Linked DNA regions of Homo sapiens: region 1 is linked to region 2. The links come from fine-mapping of genetic effects on gene expression. Tissue or cell type: whole blood. Region 2 holds a variant in brackets; the other region holds the start of a gene. All regions are shown on one strand. Distances are from middle to middle.

Region 1 (7,990 bases), 55 kb before region 2:
AAATTATTAGTCCTGGGGTGGGGTGTGGTGGCTCATGCCTGTAATCCTAGCACGTTGGGAGGCTGAGGCAGGAGGATCACTTGAGGTCAGTAGTTCCAGATCAGCCTGGGCAATATGGTGAAACCCTGTCTCTACTAAAAATAGAAAAATTACCAGGGGGTTGGGGAGGGGGGGTGGCGGGCACCTATAATCCCAGCTACTCAGGAGGCTGAGGCAGGAGAATTGCTTGAACTTGGGAGGTAGAGGTTGCAGTGCGTGAAGATTGCTCCACTGCACTCCAGCCTGGGCAACAGAGCAAGACTCCATCTCAAAAAATAAAATTAAATTAAATTAAAATAGCTAAGTGCGGTGGCTCACATCTGTAATCCTAGCACTTTAGGAGCCCAAGGCAGGCAGATCACTTGAGATCAGGAGTTTGAAACCAGCCTGGCCAACAAGGTGAAACCCTGTCTCTACTAAAAAAAAATACAGGCCAGGCGTGGTGGCTCACGCCTGTAATCCCAACAGTTTGGGAGGCCAAGGAGGGCAGATCACAAGGTCAAGAAATTGAGACCATCCTGGCCAACATGGTGAAACCCCGTCTCTGTTAAAAATACAAAAATTAGCTGGGCGTGGTGGTGCACACCTGTAATCCCAGCTACTCAGGAGGCTGAGGTGGGAGAATCGCTTGAACCTGGGAGGTGGAAGTTGCAGTGAGCTGAGATCATACCACTGCACTCTAGCCTGGGCGACAGAGCGAGACTCTGTCTCAAGAGTCTCAAGTTATTTAAAAAATAAATAAATAAATAAAATTATTAGCCCTATGTGTCAGCAGTCTTAAATGAGTATCAAAGGACAGTATCATCCCAGCTAAATTGATTAAGCACCTTTTATACACCGGGCATTACACTAGGCAGTGGAAATGTAAAGAAGATTAAGGTAAGACCCTGCCCTCAAGTCGCACAACTTACACACAACTTAGCACAACTAACAAGAAAGACTTTTCCCTTTTCCGCTGGAGCTCTGTTTGGCAGGTCAAAGCTTTGGAAAACCAATGGAGTGGATTTTTTCCTGAATATCCATAATTATCCTATTCAGAGACAAGGAAATTAATGACATCAACTGCTTTTCTAAGCAGCAGTCTGAGCAGTTTCTGCCTTTGTCCCTAGAAAAAGTACCAGGCAGAAGGAAACTCTGCTAATTCAATTAGATGTGAAGAACTAACCTATGAGAAAGTGATCATTCAGTGCTGTAGGAGTGCTACATGGAGGAGAGTAGTATTCAAAGACAAAATGCTTAGAGAAGGATGTGTAGTTCATTATTTGAGTCAGCTGATTGTGTTGACATTTTCTTAGGGGTGGGTGGGTGGGGAGTGAAAATCTGGAAAGAGAAGGCATTTCATTTAGAACACATTGTATTTTTTCTTGTGAATATAAGATGAAAATCTTTTATTCAATAGCAATACAGGTCTCGCATAAATGAAGTTCTAATTTTCATAACAGTTGTTAAGTTCTCTGTAAATCTGACAGTCACTTAATACCAACTTTAAAATGGACATTGTTAAGTATGATTCAGTGAGGTCTTCAGGTATAATAATAGGCTATAACCAAAACTTCCTATTAAGCAGAGGCAAACTCTGCCGGGTGTGGTGGCTCACACCGATAAGCCCAGCACTTTGGGAAGCTGAGGCAGGTGGATCGCTTTTTTTGTTTGTTTTTTGAGACAGAGTCTCGCTTTGTCGCTCAAGCTGGAGTGCAGTGGCGCGATCTCGGCTCACTGCAGGCTCCGCCTCCTGGTTTCACGCCATTCTCCTGCCTCAGCCTCCTGAGTAGCTGGCAATACAGACGCCCGCACACCACGCCCGGCTAATTTTTTGTATTTTCAGTAGAGACAGGGTTTCACCGTGTTAGCCAGGATGGTCTCAATCTCCTGATCTCGTGATCCGCCCACCTTGGCCTCCCAAAGTGCTGGGATTACAGGCGTGAGCCACCGCGCCCGGCCTAACTTGTATTTTTAGTAGAGACGGGGGTTCCACCACGTTGGCCAGGCTGGTCTCGAACTCCTGACCTCACGTGATCCATCTGCCTCGGCCTCCCAAATTGCTGAGATTACAGGTGTGAGCCACTGCGCCTGGCCGGTATGTGTTTTTTTAATCCCTAAAGCTTGGTAGTTTAATATTAAATTCAAATTACTGTAGCCTAGGACTCTTTTGAAAAATACTTGACAGCTTCGTTTTTGACCTATCTCATTAGGCTGAGTTCTCTTTTATCTTTACAATACAGATGTTTAAAATTAAAATACAGATCGGCCGGGCGCGGTGGCTCACGCCTGTAATCCCAGCACTTTGGGAGGCCGAGACGAGCGGATCACGAGGTCAGGAGATCCAGACCATCCTGTCTAACACGGTGTAAACCTCGTCTCTAATAACAATACAAAAAAAATTAGCCGGGCGTGATGGCGGGCGCCTCTAGTCCCAGCTACTCCGGAGACTGAGGCAGGAGAATGTTGTGAACCCGGGAGGCGGGCTTGCAGCGAGCCGACATCGCGCCACTGCACTCCAGCCTGGGCTACAGAGCAAGACTCCGTCTCAAAAAAAAGAAAAAAGAAAATTAAAATACAGATCTAGATCTGGATTTTGTTAGGTTTTTTTTTTTTTTAACAACCTAAGGTTGTTCAGAAACATCTATTCTATGTATGTGCTTCTTTAGTCTGTAATTTCTAGGCAGATTAGTTGCACCCTGTCTAGACTCCTTTCAGAAAAATACTAACAATATGTTTTTCTCTGTCTTGGGCTCCACATGGGTGAATTACAGGAAAGCTTAACAGGTACTCAGAGCAACATTTTTTCCTACTTCATGAAGGGCCTAAATGCGAACTCTTAAGTATTTCTCGTTTGCTTTTGTTCTTTTCCCAGGTTTACCTAATCTGTAAGTGTAAGATGCAGTCGATGAAAAGTACTATGGGAATTCTTGAGCAAATCAGACCATTCAAAAGGAAACCACTTCACGTAATGGTGCATAAGGAAGCTAGACTCACCAAAATAACCCTGTTAGGTAAGCCGGATACACCATGGAATACGGCAATCCTCTGTTTAATTTGCAAACCCTTTGGCGGGGAGGAGGAAAGGATGGAAAAATTTGGGTGAAGGCTTTATATGACTAGTCAAACAAACGGTGAGTCATTGAAATTTTCCAGTTAACAATCCCTTCTGCCTGGGCAGAGCCTGGGCCCCAGCGCTTTATGAGCCACACTGCAGTTTTAAGCCGGAATATCTCACGGTTTTATTGTTTCTTCCACGAAATGATTACATAAAATGAAATCAGCTTTGCAATCTGCACCGGCTTTGAAATGAAGGGCAAAATCTGGCTGGGGGTGAGGAGAAAGAAGGTGGAGAGAGAATAAGGTACGGAGACTGTGAGGCAGAGAACGCAGGAAAGGTGGTGAAAAGAGAGTACAAGAATTTTCGGGAGCTGAGTGTATTTTTCTTCCCCATGTTATAGATGCTGTCCGTTTTCCCCCAGCCTGTGTCCAGCAGGCCAGAGTGGACCCCTCCTATGGGCTAAAATACTCTCGGTCTTCGGCCCAGCACAGAGCTGCACCAACCAGGGCCTGCCGCTGCCCCCCCACCAGGTGACAGGTGGGGCCGCCGAGCGGCCACCAGACCTCCGCCTCCTCGCGTTGCCTGCCGGGAGCCGGAGCCGCTTCCGGTTGCGCCCTGTCCCTGAACTTCGACTCCCGTCGGCCCCCGGGAAAACCGCAGCGGGGTAGCGCGGGCGCTGCCGGAACTTGTAGTTCCACCTCCCGCCGCGCTAAATAGCCGGAAACGGGGGCGGCCAGAACAGAGAACTACCGAGGCGAAGGTACGGGTGGCGGCGAGGGGTCAATCCGCGCCGGGGGTGGGGTTGGCTGTGAGGCCGTCGGAGGTGGTTGGGTGGGAGGAGATCCGCTCACACACACGAGGAGGAGGGTTGAGCTGCCGCCGCCGCCGCCTCTGTCGTCGTCGCGAGTGTGGAGTCGGGACTGGAGCTGCTGCCGCGGCGACGCCGGGGATCTTTGTCGCTAGCTCCCGGCCCTTCTGCCCCGCCGCCTTCCCTCAGTCAGCGTTGCCCACTCCTCTCCGGCCGGGCGCCCCTGCCTCCATTTCCCGCTCTCTGTCCACCACACACACGGCCCCCCCGATCATGGATCCGGGCAGTGGCGGCGGCGGCGGCGGCGGCGGCGGCGGCGGGAGCAGCAGCGGCAGCAGCAGCAGCGACTCGGCGCCTGACTGCTGGGACCAGGCGGACATGGAAGCCCCCGGGCCGGGCCCTTGCGGCGGCGGCGGCTCCCTGGCGGCGGCGGCCGAGGCCCAGCGGGAGAACCTCAGCGCGGCCTTCAGCCGGCAACTCAACGTCAACGCCAAGCCCTTCGTGCCCAACGTCCACGCCGCCGAGTTCGTGCCGTCCTTCCTGCGGGGCCCGGCAGCGCCGCCACCCCCAGTTGGCGGCGCCGCCAATAACCACGGAGCCGGCAGCGGCGCGGGAGGCCGTGCGGGTAAAGGCCCGGGACGCGGGAGGAAGTCCGGCCGGGCGCCGGAGCCCACATGGCGTAGGGGTGCGGTCCGGGGGCGCGCGGCCCTGGGGCCCGGTCGGCACGTGGGGCGCTGACAGTGGCGCCGTCTGCCTGGGTGGGGCGCCCCGAGCCCGGGAGCCGGCCTTCGCGGGGCGGCCCGCGGCGGTGGCCGGGCGGGGAGCGGACAGCGGGCAGCGCGCCCAAAGACCCGGACCCGAGTGCCGCCCCTCCGCGCCCCTGCCCTGCTCTGGAGTCCGCAGTTACCCACTTGAGATGGGAACCGTATGGAACGGAGTGGGGGCCGCGGCGGATCCCTGCCACGAGGCGCAGAATGAGGACAGATGGAGCCAGGAGTCATTTGGGTGGGCGTTTAGAGATCCCAGGAGTTGGGGAGGACGAATGGCCGAGTTTTCCTTTCACCTTAGGCCCAGCCGAGAGAGCGTCTTCTGCTGCGTTTTCTACTATTGAAACTGTAATTACGGTTTAAACTGTCCGTGGCCCCCAACCGTCCTGAAGGAATCCCAAGATGCATTGCAGCCTTGTGATCGGGCAGAAACTTGGCTATCAATACCAAGATCTGTTTTACCCTTAGCATTGTGTACGCTTCTAAAGTTTACAAAGTGCCACAAAGTTAGGATTCCTCACTTAATGTGTGATAGGAGACTATATTGATTTGTGTCTTTTTAAAGTGAAGCTTACACTTTTATCCTTTGTCAGCGACACGTTTAGAGAATTTTCATTGCTGTAAAATCGTTGACCTTATTCAGATTGCTTGGAATAACTCACTGTGTTCGTGCATCAGTAGTTCAGTCTATTTCTTCAGACACTTGAGCATTTGTTATAATTTAATAGTTCTCACGTGTCTTTCTGACCGTAGCTAGTAGACATACATTTTCTAATCCATAAAATTTCGAGTTAACTTTGGTTTTTAAACATCTTCCCGTACTTAGGGGTTGCTTAAGTCGTAGGTAGCATGCTTGCAGGTGCTGACGTTGTAGGAATATCCGGTGAGTGAACTTATGTATTCTCATAATGGTGCTTATTTTGTGGTAGGTAGCTTGCTTTCAGGTACTGATTTTGTGGGAATGTCAAATGAGTGAACTTAAGTATTCTCTTCCTAATGGTGCTTATTTTAGGAACTATCAGTGTTTCCTTAAAGAGAAAATGAAAAAGGAAGGAAAAGGCTGAACGTCCTTTCATCATTTAGCCAGGACGTTAGTGGGGTGGGTCATGACATCCAGCGCATTTTAAGTGAGAACATATTGTTGATTTCTCTCTTTAAAGTTCTGTATTGTGGTGGTTCTTAGATAAGTGGACATTATAAAAGTGCTCCAGGAGTTTGGTTTCTACAGAAACTTTTGTCACCGTTTGCTCTTTCGTGGTAAAGGGATAGTGTCTGGAGAAACACTCTGATGACGTATGTACGTCAGCACGGTTGATTTGGTGGTTTTGTTGACAGTGGCATTTATTTGTGTGGGTGGTTGATGTTTTCTTTTGAGGAGATCGAGCACTTTCAGGGTGGTACGGCTCTAGACAATGTTTTCCTCTTGAATAAGGAAGCTTAGCTTGTAATTCTTGACTTACATCAAGCCATTTTGACTGCCTAACCTAGTTCACTTCTCAGCTCCTAAAAGTGCCCATTCCCTACCTTACTTTGCAGATTCCGTTTATCCAGCCATTTTCTTTCTTGGCTCTTCCTCCTTTCTGTGGAGCCACCAGCACCACTCTGACTAGACTCAGGACTCCATTTACAGCCTGTCCAGCGAGTCATCCGGGGATAACCAACCTTGGTCTAGAATGGTCACTGTTGGTGACTAGGTATTACCTCTTATGCGGGCTTTCTCTCTTCCTGATAGTTGCTAATTTGTAGTTACACCTAATCTTTTTCTCTTTGACAGTGCTAGAAATTGGAGATGCGAAAACCTGTAGGGAAGTAGCTGTCAGTAAGAGAATCCGTACAGCATGGTCAACTTTCTTGTTTTTAATCAAAAAACTATTTTGGTGTTACCGACTTTACCAATTGCTTGTACCAAAATGCCAGTTCATGTTTTTAAAAAATTATCCTATGTAGGATGTCTATTTGGAAAAGAACTGATTTTCTAAGTTGAGGTCCAGGGTTATATTGAGACTGTTGGATTGCATGTTCCAGACTATTAAGTCCATAAAAAGCCAGCATCGGAGAACAATCAGTGCTTATAAAAAGCAGGGGGATAAATAGGAAATAACACCTGGATTGGAACTTACAAAGGGGGAACCAAAAAGTTTGCAAGGTTTTTTTGATAGCGAGGAAGTGGACAATAGGGCTAGCATGTTCTGTTCTTTAGTTAAGCCATAGCCGAAATTTGTGCTGGGTGTGTTTTTAAACTGCATGCCGGGAAAGCTGTTGAAGGAGCCTGGAGAGTCAGACCTTGGGATTCAGTATTGACCTTGGATCTCTTTGAAAACTAAAGAATATAGGTTCCTTAAGAAATAATTAAGTGGAACCCATTTAAGTGTAATTAAGTGTAATTCATTTAAGCACAGTTCTCTAGAGCCAAGTAAATTGGCCAAGAGATTCTCCTTAAAAAGTGAGGTCCCCAAGTGAATAAAAATATAGAAGACAAGGCTTAATGTATATTAGAACAAGCATTTTATCTGATAGGATGTATTTAAGTTGCAATTTGCACCTAGTTTTTTTTATTGTTAGATAAGAAACTGGTTTAGTAATTTTAGGGTTACTTGAACTTTTTAGAACAGCCAGAGCTTCTAAAGTAATGATGTGGTGTTCTTTGCATCATCCCACCTTTAATGCTTCTCAGAACTCACTGCCATTAAGAAACAAGCATGGAATAAAACCAGCAGCCCTCAGTACTTACTTGGAGGAGGCACTGTCTCCAAAACTTAGCAGATTGTATTGTGGAACTTGAATTTTAAAGAGAAACATTCTGTTTTGTAGTGTTCCGTATTTGCTGAATGCCTTATTTATTGGAAGAGGAGGTTTTTTTTTTGTTTTTTTTTTTTTTTGAGACGGAGTCTTGCTCTGTTGCCCAGGCTGGAGTGCAATGGCACGATCTCGGCTGACTACAACCTCCTCCTCCCAGGTTCAAGCAATTCTCCTGCCTCAGCCTCCCGAGTAGCTGGGATTACAGGCACCTGCCATCATGCCCAGCTATTTTGTGTGTGTGTGTTTTTGCAGGGATGGGGTTTCACCATGTTGGCTAGGCTGGTCTTGAACTCTTGACCTCAGGTGATCTGCCCGCCTTGGCCTCCCAAAGTGCCGGGATTACAGGTGTGACCGCGCCTGGCCTTTTTTTTTTTTTTTTTTAAATGATTGACATTTAACTTACACACTGTAAAATTCACCCTTTTCAACTGTACAAGCTGGGCGCATTGGCTCACACTTATAAACCCAACACTCTGGGAGGCTGAGGTGAGAGGATTGCCTGAGGCCTCCATAAAACATAGTGAGACTGAGACCCTG
Region 2 (7,990 bases):
TTTATTCAATTCTGTGCATGAATAACTCCTCTAAGTCCTTTTCTTTTTCTTTTTTGGTAGATTTATTCAATTCTGTGCATGAATAACTTCTCTAAGTCCTTTTATAGATCCCTGATTGATGACGTAGCATAATACTTTATAGCATAGTAGCTATTTAAAACTTTCCTGCCAGGCACGGTGGCTCACCCCTGTAATCACAGCACTTTGGGAGGCCGAGGCAGGTGGATCGCCTGAGGTTGGGAGTTCTAGACCAGCCTGGTCAGCAAAGTGAAACTCCGTCTCTACTAAAAATACAAAAATTAGCCAGGCATGGTGGCACTTGCCTGTAATCCCAGCTACTCGGAGGCTGAGGTAGGAGAATTGCTTGACCCCAGGAGGCAGAGGTTGCAGTGAGCTGAGATCGCGCCACTGCACTCCAGCCTGGGCAACAGAGAGAGGCTCCATCTCAAAAAAAAAAAAAAAAAACTTTCCTAGTTTGAACAAAGATGCACTTTGAGTTGTCATAACATTTACCAGTTATATACTGGTACTGGTTAAAAGAACACAGTCCTGCAAGTTGTCAGCTGGTTCGCGTCAATGATAAAAAGAGACTAATGGCATCCCTTTCAGCAAAGGGCAGGAGAAGAGAACTAACCTTGTGCTATTTAACCTATTTTTTTTAAATGTAGAAATCACTTCTAAGAGTGGCCTTAATATTCCATTCCTGGCCGGGCGCGGTGGCTCACGCCTGTAATCCCAGCACTTTGGGAGGCCGAGGCGGGTGGATCACAAGGTGAGGAGATCGAGACCATCCTGGCTAACACGGTGAAACCCCGTCTCTACTAAATATACGAAAAAAAAAAAATTAGCCGAGCATAGTGGCGGGCACCTGTATTCCCAGCTACTTGGGAGGTTGAGGCAGGAGAATGGCGTGAACCCAGCAGGCAGAGCTTGCAGTGAGCCGAGACTGCGCCACTGCGCTCCAGCCTGGGCGACAGAGTGAGACTCCGTCTCAAAAAAAAAAAAAAAAAGCCTGTTTGTTAATCATGTATTAAGTGGGGTTGGTGTACACTATGATACCTAGCAGCAAAATGGTGTACTTGTGATACCCACATAGATTGTATGAGGACAAAGAGTTAAAAATAAACAGCAAACCTAAGTTAATAAAGTCAGGTTTTCTACAGAAAACCTCTTTACATTTCTTTCTCTGGCAATATCATATTTCTCTTGTTTCTCTTCCCCAGCCTTCCACCCCCTCGCCCCCAAATCAGAATCAAATATCAGTTTCTTTACTGATTGGCTATTTCTTCCCTGCTTGAATGCAGTTAAGCTCTTTTGGCCCCTAAGATGAACAATTTCATTTTCCAATCCATTTAATAATGATTGTATTATTTTCAGCAAAGGGAAGAAGAGAACTAACCTTGTGCTATCATGAACATGACAGACACTGTGAAGATAGATTCTCTTAAATCCGAGGGAACCAGCTTCATTTAACAGATGAAGACATTGAGGCTTGGGAGATTAAGCCACCTTGCCCAAGGCTAAACAATTAGTAAATCATGGAGTTGGGATTCAGACTGATCTTTCTGACCCAAAACACCATGTCCTTTGTACCTTCCTTAAAATGTCACATTCTACATTTGGGCAATATTGTTTTACCTTTGATTCAATTATGTTTAGGTTAATATTACTTAGCAGATTTCAGTACCAAGAATATGCTGAGTATTAAATTGCTTTCAGATAATCCAGACATCACCAATTGACTATGTGGCGTTTCTTTTGTTAGTTGGCCATGTGTTACCACTGATTTAATAGTGCTATATAAAAAACGATGTCTAATAGTTTTCTAAGGTTACTAGTTGATTGTAATATTTATTTTGAACTAGAATATGAGTTCCATTATTAAGGGTGAAGTTTCTTAAACTTTATGTTTAGCATTCAGCAACATATTCGAATGTTCTTTACAATTAGTTGATTTACCAAATCCCTAATAAAATTAACTTTATGTACCTCCAAAAAAGATTTTCAAGAAGTTTGAAGAGAGATATCTCAGTACTTTCCAAGAGAAACAACTTAATAGTATTCATGGTATCAGTGAGACCTGGGTACTCGAATGTTGAAATTAATTACATTGGTTTTTGTAGAAATGAGGATTCACTATGTTATCCAGACTAGTCTAGAACTCCTGGCCTCAAGCAATCCTCCTTCCTCAGCCTCCCAAAGTGCTGGGATTACAGGTGTGAGCCACCACGCCTGGCCTATTTATTTATTTTTTAATTTTTTCACCCTGTCTTGTGGTGCTGACAATATGGTCTTTTATTATTATGTATTCTTCTCACCTTCAATATTTAACAGTGTTAACACATCTTCAGATATCTCCACTCCCTCATGGCTTCTGTAACTTGGCACCCTCTTGGTTTGCATTCTTTTTTTTTTTTTTTTTGAGATGGAGTCTCGATCTGTCGCCCAGGCTGGAGTGGGAGTGCAGTGGCGCAATCTCAGCTCACTGCAACCTCTGCCTCCCGTGTTCAAGCCATTCTCCTGCCTCAGCCTCCTGAGTAGCTGGGACTACAGGCGCGTGCCACCATCCCCGGCTAATTTTTTGTATTTTTAGTAGAGACAGGGTTTCGTCGTGTTAGCCAGGATGATCTCAATCTCCTGACCTCGTGATCTGCCCACCTTGGCCTCCCAGAGTGCTGGGATTACAGGCCTGAGCCACTGCGCCCGGCCTTCATTCTTTCTTTCTTTTTTTTTTTGAGACAAAGTCTTGCTCTGTTGCCTAGGCTGGAGTGCAGCGGCGCAATCATGGCTCAATGTAGCGTCAACCCCCTGGGCTCAAGCAATCCTCCCATTTCAGCATCACGAGTATTTGGGACACAGGCATATGCCACCGTACCCATCTAATTTTTCTATTTTTTGTAGAGACAGGATCTCATTATGTTGCCCAGGGCAGTCTTGAACTCCTGAGCTCAAGTAATCCGGCTGCATCAGCCTCCTAAATTGGTTTTCTTTTACATCTTCAACTATTTCTCTGTTTCCTCCTTGTTTGTTATTGAAGGTTTCTTTACAACTCTATTATTCGTCTAGACTTTTTTTTTGCAATCTCACCTATTAACAAAGCTTTAATCATCACCTCCATGAAAATGACTTCTAATTTCCTTCTTTTTAGTTCAGGAATATTCTCTTCCACATTCCAGATCCATTTAGATGTACCATTGGAACTTCAAACTCAAAATACAGTCATGGGTTGCTTAATGAGGATACATCCTTAGACATGCGTCTTTGGATGACTTTATAGTTGTGGGAATATCGGTGTACTCACACAAACCTAAATGGTATGGCTTGCTACACACCTATGCTATGTGATACAGCCTATTGCTCCTGGGCTACAAACCTGTACAGCATGTTACTGTACTAAATACTGTAGGCAACTGTATCTAAAATATACAGCAAAAATACAGTATAAAACATTAAAAATGGCACACCTGTATAGGGCACTTATCATGAATGGCGCTTGCAGGACTGGAAGTTGCTCTGGGTGAATAAGTGAGTGAATGCGAAGGCCTAGGACATTACTGTACACCACTATAGACTTACAAACACTGTACACTTACGTACACTAGATTTATTTTTCTTTTTTTTTTGAGACAGGGGTCTCACTATATTGTCTAGACTGAACTTGAACTCCCAGGCTCAAGCGATCCTCCTGCCTCAGCCTCCTGAGTAGTTACGACAACAGGCACACACCACTGAGCCTGGCTTTAAAAATTTTTTCTTTCTTCAATAATAAATTAACCTTGGCTTACTGTAACATTTTTACTTTATAAACTTACATTTTTAACTTTGTGACTCTTTTGTAGTTAACACTTTGCTTAAAACACAAACACTTTGTACAGCTGCACAAAAATATTTTTCTTTATATCCTTACTCTGTAAGCTTTTCTCTATTTTTGAAATTTTTAATTTTTTTTTCCTTTTTTTTCTTTATTGAGACGGAGTCTCACTCTATCGCCCAGGCTGGAGTGCAGTGGCGCAATCTCTGCTCACTGCAACCTCCACCTCCCGGGTTCAAGCGATTCTCCTGCTTCAGCCTCCCAAGTAGCTGGGCTACAGGTGCATGCCACCACACCCGGCTAATTTTTTTATTTTTATTTTTAGTAGAGACGGGGTTTCACCATATTAGCCAGGATGGTCTCAATCTCCTGACCTCGTGATCCACCCGCCTCAGCCTCCCAAAGTGCTGGGATTACAGGCGTGATCCATGCCCGGCCTTTTTTTCGTTTTTAAACTTTTTTTTTTTAGATGGAATCTCGCTCTGTCACCCAGGCTGGAGTGCAATGGGGTGATCTCGGCTTGCTGCAACCTCCGCCTCCCGGGTTCAAGCTATTCTCCTGCCTCAGCCTCCCCAGTAGCTGGGATTACAGGCACCTGCCACTACTCCCGGCTAAGTTTTGTATTTTTAGTAGAGATGGGGTTTCATCATGTTGGCCAGACTGGTCTCGGAACTCCTGACCTTAGGTGATCTGCCCGCCTCAGCCTCCCAAAGTGCTGGGATTACAGGTGTGAGCCACCGCACCTGCCCCTTTTAAAGCGTTTTTA[T/C]TAAAAATGAAAGGCTGGGCGCAGTAGTTCACGCCTGTAATCCCAGCATTTTGAGAGGCGGAGGTGGGCAGATCACGAGGTCAGGAGATTGAGACCATCCCAGCTAACACAGTGAAACCCTGTCTCCACTAAAAATACAAAAATTAGCCAGGCGTGGTAGCATGTGCCTGTAATCCCAGCTACGCAGGAGGCTGAAGCAGGAGAATCGCTTGAACCCGGGAGGTGGAGGTTGCAGTGAGCCAAGATCGCTCCATTACACTCCAGCCTGGGCCACAGAGCAAGACTCTGTCTCAAAAAAAAAAAAAAAAAAAAAAAAAAAAAAGTAAACACAGGCTGGGCACAGTGGCTCACACCTGTAATCCCAGCACTTTGGGAGGTCGAGGCGGTAGGATCGCTTGAGCCCAGGAGTTTGAGACCAGCCTGGGCAACAGAGCGAGAACTTGTCTCTACTAAAAAAGAAAGAAAAGAAAGAAAGAAGGCGGGCGGTGGGAGGGGGGGGGTTGGCGGAGAGAGAGAGAGAAAGCAAGCTAAAATAAAATAAAATAAAATAAAATAAAAAGAAGACACAAACACACACCTAGGCCTATGACTACACAGAGTCAGGATCATCAATATCAACTGTCTTCTACTTCCACATCTTATCTGTCCCATTAGAAGGTGTTCAAGGACACTGACACTGACACATGGAGTTGTCATCTCCTATGGTAACAATGCCTTCTTCTGGAATATCTCCTGAAGGACCTCTCTGAGGCTGTTTTACAGTTAACTTTTTTTTTATAAGTAGAAGGGATACACTCTAAAATAACTATAAAAAGTATAGTATAGGCCGGGTGTGGTGGCTCACGCCTGTAATCCCAGCACCTCGGGAGTCTGAGGCAGGCAGATCACCTGAGGCCAGGAGTTCAAGACCAGCCTGGCCAACATGGCGAAACTCCATCTCTATTAAAAATACAAAAATTAGCTGGGTATGGCAGCAGACGCCTGTAATCCCAGCTACTCGGGAGGCTGAGGCAGGAGAATCGCTTGAGCCCAGGAGGTGGAAGTTGCAGTGAGCTGAGATTGTGCCACTGCACTCCACCTTGGGTGACAGAGTGAGACTCTGTCTCAAAAAAAAAAAAAAAAAAAAAAAAAAGTACAGTATAGCAGGGCATGGTGGCTCACCCCTGTAATCTCATGCCCAACACTTCAGGAGGCTAAGGCAGGAGGACCACTTGAGCTCAGGAGTTCAAGAACAGCCTGGGCAATGTAGTAAGATCCCATCCCTAAAAAAAAAAATACAGTATAGTACATACATAAACCAGTAACATAGTTGTTTATTATTATCAAGTAATTATGTACTGTACATAATTATATTTGCCATACTTGGGGGCAGTGCAGGTTTGTTTATACCAGCATCACCACAAACGTGAGGAATGCGCTGACATTATGATGGCTATGACATCACTAGGTGACAGGAATTTTTCAGCTCCATTATGATCTTACGTGACCATGTATGTGGGTCTGTTGTTGAAAGAAACATCATTATGTGGTACAGCACTCTACTGAAAAGGAATCTTATGTTTTCCCTCTAAATCTGCTGCTCCTCCTTTCTTCCCCAGTTCTATTAATACCACCCATTTGCCCAGCTTTTCAGGCTCTTAGAATTAGGGAGTAATCTACATTTCTCTCCTTCTATGTCCAAGCTCAGGTCAAGCAGTATAAGTACCCTGTCCTCACTATCACCCTACCATCAGATCTTGATACCACAATAGTTTCCTATGTTCATCCCCTTAAGCCCTGTCTCAGGCCATTCTAATGCATTATTCATTCTAAAGAAATACTATTTATGTCACTTATAATAAATAAATAAGGAAAAATAGTGAAGATACCATTTGTAGTTTTCCTACCATTAACTGGCTCTCTTCTACCCTCTCAAAGCTTATCGTCAAATGGGGGAGAGCCAATTATAGTAGGAAAACTATAAATATTTTGGGGTAAAAGGACAGGATTATCTAAGCTACAATTCTCCAGAAGTAATCTGAAGCAGAAATTAGAAGGATGAGTTAATATATGTGGGGATGGGATATGGAGGTACAAGGTGATAGTGTTCCAGGAAGAAGTGACAGTACATTGGAAGGTATGAAGAAAAGTAGAACCTGCAGAGTTGAAACTAGGACTTAAAGATTGAAGGGTTGAGTGGCAGGGTATGAAGTTAGAGAGATAAAAAGAAAGGGACCAGATGAAGAGTGCCTACCATGTTGAGAGTGACCATGTTACTTATCTTTTAAAAATTTTTACTTATTTTTTTTTAGACAGGGTCTCACTCTGTCACCCAAGCTGGAGTACAGTAGCACAAGCATAGCTAACTGCAGCTTTGAACTCCTAAGCTCAAGAAATCCTACCTCGGCCTCCCAAAGTGCTAGGATTACAGGCATGAGTCACCATGCCCAGTCCATATGATTTATCTTTCAAACTGCAACACTATTTTCTTGGACAAATACTAAACTACACAGGATGCCAGACAAGAGATGCAAACTGTGATACATACAAGGCAAATTAAGGAATATGCCTCATCCTAATGACAAGAATCCAATGAAGGTGATGCAGCACAGTTTGATATGATCAGATTTCAATTTTAAAAAGATTACGCCATCCGACGGGTAGAGAATGGACTGTAAGATGCAAAATTAGGCTGGAAGTGATGGCTCACACCTGTAATCCCAACACTCTGGGAGGCCTAGGTGGGAGGATCACTTGAGCCCAGGAGTTCGAGATCAGCCTGGGTAACATAGGGAGAACCCCATCTCTACAAAAAAGTTAAAAAATTAGGCGGACATGGTGGCACACACCTGTAATTTCAGCTACTTGGGAGTCTGAGGTGGGAGGATCACTTGAGTCCAGGAGGTTGAGGCTGCAGTGAGCTGTGATCACCCCACCACACTCCAGCCTGCGCGACAGAGTGAGACCTTGTCCCAAAACTAAAATAAATAAAAATAAAAGATGCAAAAGTAGATGTGGGAAGACAAGTTAAGAGGTTGTTGCAGTAATCTAAGCAAAAAACAAAAAACAAATACATGATAATGTCCTCTACCACAACGTGGCAGGAATAAAAAGAATTGGATACATGCAAGAGACATTTAAAAAGAATAAACAAGGGCTCGGTGCAGTGGCTCATGCCTGTAATCCCAGCACTTTGGAGGGCAGAGGCAGGAGAATCACTTGAGGTCAGGAGTTCAAGACCAGCCTGGCCAACACGGTGAAACCCCATCACTACTAAAAATACAAAAATTAGCGGAGCATGGTGGCACACGCTTGTAATCCCAGTTACTTGGGAGGCTGAGGCAGGAGAATTGCTTGAACCCATGAGGTGGAGGCTGCAGTGAGATGAGATTGCGCCAGTGCACTCCAGCCTGGGCTACAGAGTGAGACTCCAT

What was found. PIP is the estimated chance that this variant, and not a neighbour inherited with it, causes the effect.
Region 1: GSPT1 starts here. The variant in region 2 is fine-mapped to the expression of GSPT1 in whole blood (TOPMed, PIP above 0.99). The same link has a PIP of 0.9 or more in lung.

Annotation. Positions count from the first base shown.
Region 1 is chr16:11,911,891-11,919,880 of GRCh38, reverse strand. GSPT1 (G1 to S phase transition 1) reads left to right here and starts at 3,925. Exons shown (of 15, transcript NM_002094.4): 1 at 3,925-4,512. The coding sequence starts at 4,161. RefSeq lists enhancers at 1,985-2,485, 3,786-3,935, 3,544-4,481 and silencers at 3,536-3,595, 4,306-4,375, 4,466-4,705, 4,746-4,795.
Region 2 is chr16:11,856,403-11,864,392 of GRCh38, reverse strand. No RefSeq gene overlaps it. Among named protein-coding and RNA genes, the nearest start is that of RSL1D1, 8.9 kb to the right of the region's middle. The variant T/C (reference allele first, on the strand shown) is at 4,578.